2 linked regions of the Homo sapiens genome follow. The protein of the gene in region 1 purifies or fractionates together with the protein of each later gene. This does not show direct contact. Each region holds a gene or a part of one and is shown on either strand. Other genes may lie near its edges.

Region 1 (3,045 bases):
GATATGCCCGTTCAGTTTACAGTTCATTTTTTGCTTGGTTTGGAAAAATTTCATTAGAGGTTGGTACATTAATATTTTGCTTATCTTACACAGCCAGGTGTTTCATGTTTGTGTATGTACGTGTGTGTGTGTAAATATCACACATATATGTGAGTATGAAAATCGGACGTACTTTTTTCTAAACTGAAGCTATTATGGAATTACAGGGAAAAGACTTAGAACTTTCAACAATACTAAAGTATTTTGGAATGTTTTTAAGCCTTATTTTTAAATGACTAGATATAGATTACTTGCAAAATATTATTTACGTTGTCTTGAGCTTTCAAGCACAACCAAGATGCTGAGACCAAGAGAGAAAAATATTAGACCAGGTATATAAATGAAATCAAACTGAGGGGATTTTGATTTTTTGTTCATCTCCATAATTAAATATATTACTGGAATTCAGTTTATTGATGCATACCATAATAAAATTTACCCTTATTATGATTGGAAATTGTGGGAGAAAGTATAAACTCATTACATTTTGTGTAAGATACATAATATGAAATTATCTACAAAATCAGTTTGAACAGTAGGTTTTAAAATGTATTCTGAGTAGTCTAAGCTTTATTATTTGAAATAGAATGTTTTAAAACAATTTATATTGTAATAACAACATATATTTTAGAGTTTTTAGAGTATAGGATTTATTAAATTGTCTCTTAAAATAGGGAAAATAAATTCCTCTTTGAGTTCTTGAATAATTGTTCTATTATTTTCTTTGGTCTCATTTATAAGAGAGATTGTATTAGCAGTTGGAGTTCTAAGGAGTAGACTGCAGTGGACTTTTCAGGGCCAGTAGTGAGACAGAATAAAATGGTTTTAGGAAAGCCTTCTAATGTTATTATGCAACCAAATTGTTTAAATTAGGGAAAACTGTAATTTATTCATGGACCCTCTATAAATATCTGACTTAAATATTTTTTCTCCTAGCTATTTATTTGCCAGTATCACATATGGCTGGCAGCGGACACAAGGGGTATCTTGGTACTGATACCTGGAAACCCTATGCTCAACATCATTGTCAGCACTTTCATATTTGTTTGTGTGGCACATGAAATTTCTCAGATCACTAATGATCTTGCACAGATTATTATTCCTAAAGATAACTCATCTCTCTTGAAAAGGTTGGCATGTATAGCTGCATTTTTTTGTGGACTCCTCATCTTATCATCCATTCAAGATAAATCAAAACATTAGGTTCCAAAAATTCTAAAAAACCTAAACTCTTCAGGCTACCTTTGTGTGTCTCTAGAAGAGAAAAGCATCTATCTGGAGATATAAATGTGTATGTAAATATAAACGTTTGTGGCAAGAGGACAGTTCTGTGACATCTGTTGAACATATGTGGTTGTATATATTGGAAATGTACATATCCAATATGAAATACTAAAACAAACAAACAAACAAAAAACCAGAATGCATTGTATAGGATTGCATGTGAAGTCTTTTCTACTGAATCTATATTTCCATTTGTAAGTGATTTTAAGTTAACATATGAAGGCAGGGAAATGATTACCTTTCCAGTAAAAAGTATAGATAATTTAATTAACTTAGTGACACCACCAAGTGTTTTGATATAACTAAATTTGTGGTAATAAGACTGTCTGCACCTGTATTCATTGTGGAACTTCCTCTTTCATTGGAAACTTTCTTACTCAAGAATGACGGCAGTATTGTTTTCTTATATGTGCAATGAAGTGGAATGATAAACAGTATGCCTTTAATTTATATGTGTTCTTGTTCTGATGTTGTTTCCTGAAATGATTTTTCTTCCTAACTGTGGTTTTCGGGTATGCAAGCCTAAATCTTTGTACACTTTGTCTCACAGAATAGTTCTGAGGCTCCATGACAGGGTTTTGTCATTGTTGATGTTATTGTTGCTTCGTTTTATAAAAAAGCCAAAATTTTTTTTCCAATCCAAACGTTCACCTGTTTCCTTTCCTCAAGCTATACCAGTGTAATACCAGTTACCCTGTGGATCCATTTAATATGTTATCCCCACTAATTAATTTTCGTATATTATTTCCAATATTTGGAAAGCTCTTTATAGCCATTTGGTATTTCCTATTACCCACCTCCTATTTTAAATATTTATCAGTCTAAACTTGTGCAGTGTAGTAAACATGCAAGTTGTTACGATTGAGCTGTATTACCATAAGTAGAATTTTAAGTAAACTGGTGAATTTGGGCAATAAATGTTTTTGCTTTTTGTTTGATTTTTTTTTACAAGCTAACTGTTAGAGGTATACATTTATTTATCTGTTGTACAGATTTGATTATGATTTTAATGTTTGAAAGATTGCACTTGTTTGCTTTTACTATATGTGGGGTAAAATATATTTTCTGTTCACAGTATATGAAAATATGGAGTAATTTAAACAGTAAATAAACATTCTGTGGATGCTTATTTTTGTATTGGCAAAGTATCAATTAAACTATATGTGTTCTTTTTCAAAAATGCTGGATCCATTCATGATTGGTTCAAATATCTAATTATTTCCTCAACTTAAATTTGCTTTTTAAATTGCTTAATATGTAGGGGTAGGTTACCAAATGATAGTTGGATAAGGAATCATTTAGTTATCAGAGCTTCAGAGGGTCATCTGCTTTCCACCAAGGAAGTTTAAGCATTATGGTTCATTAGTGATTTTGCTTGAAGATTTTAAAAATGTACTTATTATTTATTTAGCACTGGATTTATGTGCTACTGATATACCTCCATTAATAGAGGAATATTTCTTGGACAGAGATGTGTGTTCTTTCCTTTTCTCTCTTCTTTTGCCCTTACTTAATCTTTTGACATTTCCCAGATAGACAATTGTAATGATTCATTGCTCTGCCTCCTAGACTGCAGCCTTATAAGTAGAGAATAGTATAGTTATAAATCAAAAACTTCCAAGTACTGTGATCACATTATTCTTGTTCATGTAGCTTGCCAATGAGTAGAGTGCATTTTAATTTAGCTTGTAAGTTTTATCACCTGAAAAAGATTCTTCTTGA
Region 2 (3,834 bases), on another chromosome or scaffold:
GGATACTCATTATTTAAGTTCAAAGAGTTGTTTTAGAGGTAATGGAGTTAATACACATAAAGCATTTTAGCATATGTTTACTATTTATAAAGAGTTGTTTTAGAGGTATTGGAGTTAATACACATAAAGCATTTTAGCAAATGTTTACTATTATTATAATGAAGAAAAGAACCAGATAGTAAATGGTTATCTCTGAGTGATGAGATTGCCAATTATTTTTCTTTTTTATATTTTGTGTATGTGTATTTCCTAACTGTGAACATGGTTGTAGAATAAGACACTTTTATAAAATCCTTTAACTGGAATTTTCAAGTATTTATATTGGCTTTTTTTTTTAATATTAAATGCTTTACCTTAAAACATAAACAATAAATTTGGGTATTTGATATCTACAATTTGCATATTTCTCACTTGTGTTAATCTTTTCCTTACAGACATGGCCCATGAACATGGACATGAGCATGGACATCATAAAATGGAACTTCCAGATTATAGACAATGGAAGATAGAAGGGACACCATTAGAAACTATCCAGAAGAAGCTGGCTGCAAAAGGGCTAAGGGATCCATGGGGCCGGTAAGATGAATTAAGTAATTTAGATAGAATGTATCCTAGAGAATCAAGTGTCTATGTTGCTTTTCAATGTATTCTCCTTAGAGAATCATGAAAAATGGCTTTTTACTTTAAAGGGTTTTTTTTGGTTTTTGTTTTGTTTTTGAGACGGTGTCTTGCTGTGTTGCCAGGCTGGAGTGCAGTGGCGCGATCTCAGCTCACTGCAGCCTCCGCCACCCGGGTTCAAGTGATTCTCTTGCCTCAGCCTCCCAAGCAGCTGGGATTACAGGCACGCGCCACCAAGCCCAGCTACTTTTTGTGTTTTTAGTAGAGACGGGGTTTCACCATGTTGGCCAAGATAGTCTCGATCTCCTGACCTCGTGATCCACCTGCCTCAGCCTCCCGAAGTGCTGGGATTACAGGCATGAGCCACCACGCCTGGCTACTTTAAAAGTTTTTGGTTTGTTTTGAGACAGGGTCTCACTCTGTCACCCAGACTGGAGTGCAGTGGTGCGCTCACAGCAACCTCCATCTCCCAGGCTTAAGCAATCCTCCCACTCCAGCCTCCCTAGTAGCTGAGACTACAGGCATGGGCCACCATGCCCAGCTAATTTTTATATTGTTAGTAGAGACAGGGTTTTGCCATGTTGCCCGGGCTAGTCTCAAATTCCTGAGGTGAAGTGATCTGCCCACCTTGGCCTCCCAAAGTGTTAAAATTACAGGCATGAGCCGCTACACCTAGCCACATTAAAATTTTAAAATCGACTTTATTGAGCTATCGTTTATATATAGTAAAATTCACCTGTTTTGAGTGTAAGTCCTTTATCAGATAAAAGTTTTGTGGTGCTTGCTTCAGAAACATATATACTAAAATTGTAATACAGAGAAGTTAGTATGGCCCTGTGCAAGGATTTAAAACAATTTTTTTTAAGGTTTGCAAATGTTTTTTCTCACAGTGTGGCTTATCTTTTTATTTTCTGAATAATGTCTTTCAGAGAGTTTTAAATTTTGATGAATTCACAATTTAGCAATTTTTAAATTTTACAATGTATCCTTTTTGCACCCTAAGATTATCTTCTATGCTTTCTTTTAGAAGCTTTTATAGTTCTTCTTACATTCTGTGATCTGTTTTGAGTTCATTTTTGTGTCATATGAAGTAAGGATGAAGATTAGTATTTTTACATATGTGCATCCAGTTGCTCCAGCACCATTTATTAAAAAATTATTGTACCTCCGTTGAATTACCTTAATAATGTTGTCAAAAATCCATTGAGTGATTTTTGACACTCAATGTGGGTGGTGGCTCGCACCTATAATTCCAGCACATTGGGAAGCCAAGGCAGGCGGATCGCTTGAGCCCAGGATTTTGAAACCAGCCTAGGCAGTACAGGGAGACTTTGTCTCTACAAAAAAATTTTAAGAATTGCCAGATGTGATGACACACACATGTAGTCCCAGCTACTCAGGAGGCTGAGGTGGGCAGATCACTTGAGCCCAGGATGTCCAGGCGGCAGTGAGCCAAGATCTGGCCACTGCACTCCAACCTGGGCAACAGAGAGAGACCTTGCCTCAAGAAAAAAAAATCAATTGACTGTATCTATGGGATCTATGTCTGGACTGTACTCTGTTACCCTCATTAATATGTCCACCCTTATGCCAATACCACAGTGTCTTTAAATTACATAGCATAAGATCTCCAACTTTTTTTTTTTTTTTTTTTTTTTGAGACAGAGTCTCACTCTGTCACCCAGGCTAGGGTGTGGTGGCTCAATCTGGCTCGCTGCCAGCTCCACCTCCCGGGTTCACGCCATTCTCCTGCCTCAGCCTCCTAAATAGCTGGGACTACAGGTGCCTGCCACCATGCCCTGCTAATTTTTTGTATTTTTAGTAGAGACGGGGTTTCACCGTGTTAGCCAGGATGGTCTGGATCTCCCGACCTCATGATCCACCCGCCTCAGCCTCCCAAAGTGCTGGGATTACAGGCATGAGCCACCGTGCCCAGCCAAGATCTCCAACCTGTAAAAAATTGTTTTAGCTATTCTAGGTCCTTTGCTTTTACATATAAACTTTGGAATGAACCTGACAATTTCTATTAAAATCCCTGCTTGGATTTTAATTGGGATCACATTGAATCTGTTTCACATAGATTCACAATGGGAATCTATTTCACATCCACATTGAATCAGATTCCCATCAATTTAGGGGCCAGGCATGGTGGCTCACACCTGTAATTCCAGCACTTTGGGAGGCCGAGGCGGGTGGATCACTTAAGGTCAGGTGTTCGAGACCAGCCTGGGCAACATGGGAAACCCTGTCTCTACTAAAAATACAAAAATTAGCCAGGTGTGGTAGTGGGTACCTGTAATCCCAGCTACTCAGGAGGCTGAGACAGGAGAATCACTTGAACCCGCGAGGCTGAGGTTGCAATGAACCAAGATCGTGCCACTGCACTCCAGCCTGGGCAACAGAGTAAGCTTCCATCTTAAAGAAAACAAAAAATTTAGGGATAAGTGATGTCTTAACAATATTAAGTCTTCTAGTCAATGGGCAATTTAGGTCTTGTTCATTTTATCAGCAGTATTTTATTGCTTTACGTACAGGTCTTGCACATATTTTATTAAATTTATACTGAATTAATTATTTATTTTATTTTATTTTATTTTTCTGGGAGACAGAGTCTCACTGTGTCACCCAGGCTGGAGTGCAGTGGCACAATCTTGGCTTACTGCAACCTCTGCCTCCTGGGTTTAAGCAATTCTCCTGCCTCAGCCTCCTGAGTAGCTGGGATTACAGACGTGCACCACCACGCCCAGCTAATTTTTTTTTTTTTTTTTTGAAATGGAGTCTCGCTCTGTCACACAGGCTGGAGTGCAGTGGCACGATCTCCGCTCACTGCAAGCTCCGCCTCCTGGGTTCACACCATTCTCCTGCCTCAGCCTCCCGAGTAGCTGGGACTACAGGCGCCCACCACTATGCCCGGCTAATTTTTTGTATTTTTTAGTAGAGATGGGGTTTCACTGTGTTAGCCAGAATGGTCTCGATATCCTGACCTCATGATCCACCCACCTCAGCTTCCCAAAGCGCTGGGATTACAGGCATGAGCCACCGCGCCAGGCCTAATTTTTGTATTTTTTTGGTAGAGATGGGGTTTCACCATGTTGGCCAGGCTGGTCTTGAACTCATGACCTCAAGTGATCCGCTCGCCTCAGCCCCCCAAAGTGCTAGGATTACAGGTTTGAGCCATCAGGCCTGGCGTTGTTTGTTTGTTTGTTTGTTTGTTTG

The links.
Region 2: the proteins of CASD1 (region 1) and NDUFB3 purify together in Homo sapiens (affinity purification with mass spectrometry; one large-scale study listed by BioGRID and IntAct). This does not show direct contact.

Annotation. Positions count from the first base shown.
Region 1 is NC_000007.14:94,554,517-94,557,561, forward strand, and holds the end of CASD1 (N-acetylneuraminate (7)9-O-acetyltransferase), read left to right. Parts: coding exon 1-59; intron 60-975; coding exon 976-1,242; 3' UTR 1,243-2,503; downstream 2,504-3,045.
Region 2 is NC_000002.12:201,078,447-201,082,280, forward strand, and holds part of NDUFB3 (NADH dehydrogenase [ubiquinone] 1 beta subcomplex subunit 3), read left to right. Parts: intron 1-434; 5' UTR 435-436; coding exon 437-576; intron 577-3,834. UniProt on the Homo sapiens protein: Accessory subunit of the mitochondrial membrane respiratory chain NADH dehydrogenase (Complex I), that is believed not to be involved in catalysis. Complex I functions in the transfer of electrons from NADH to the respiratory chain.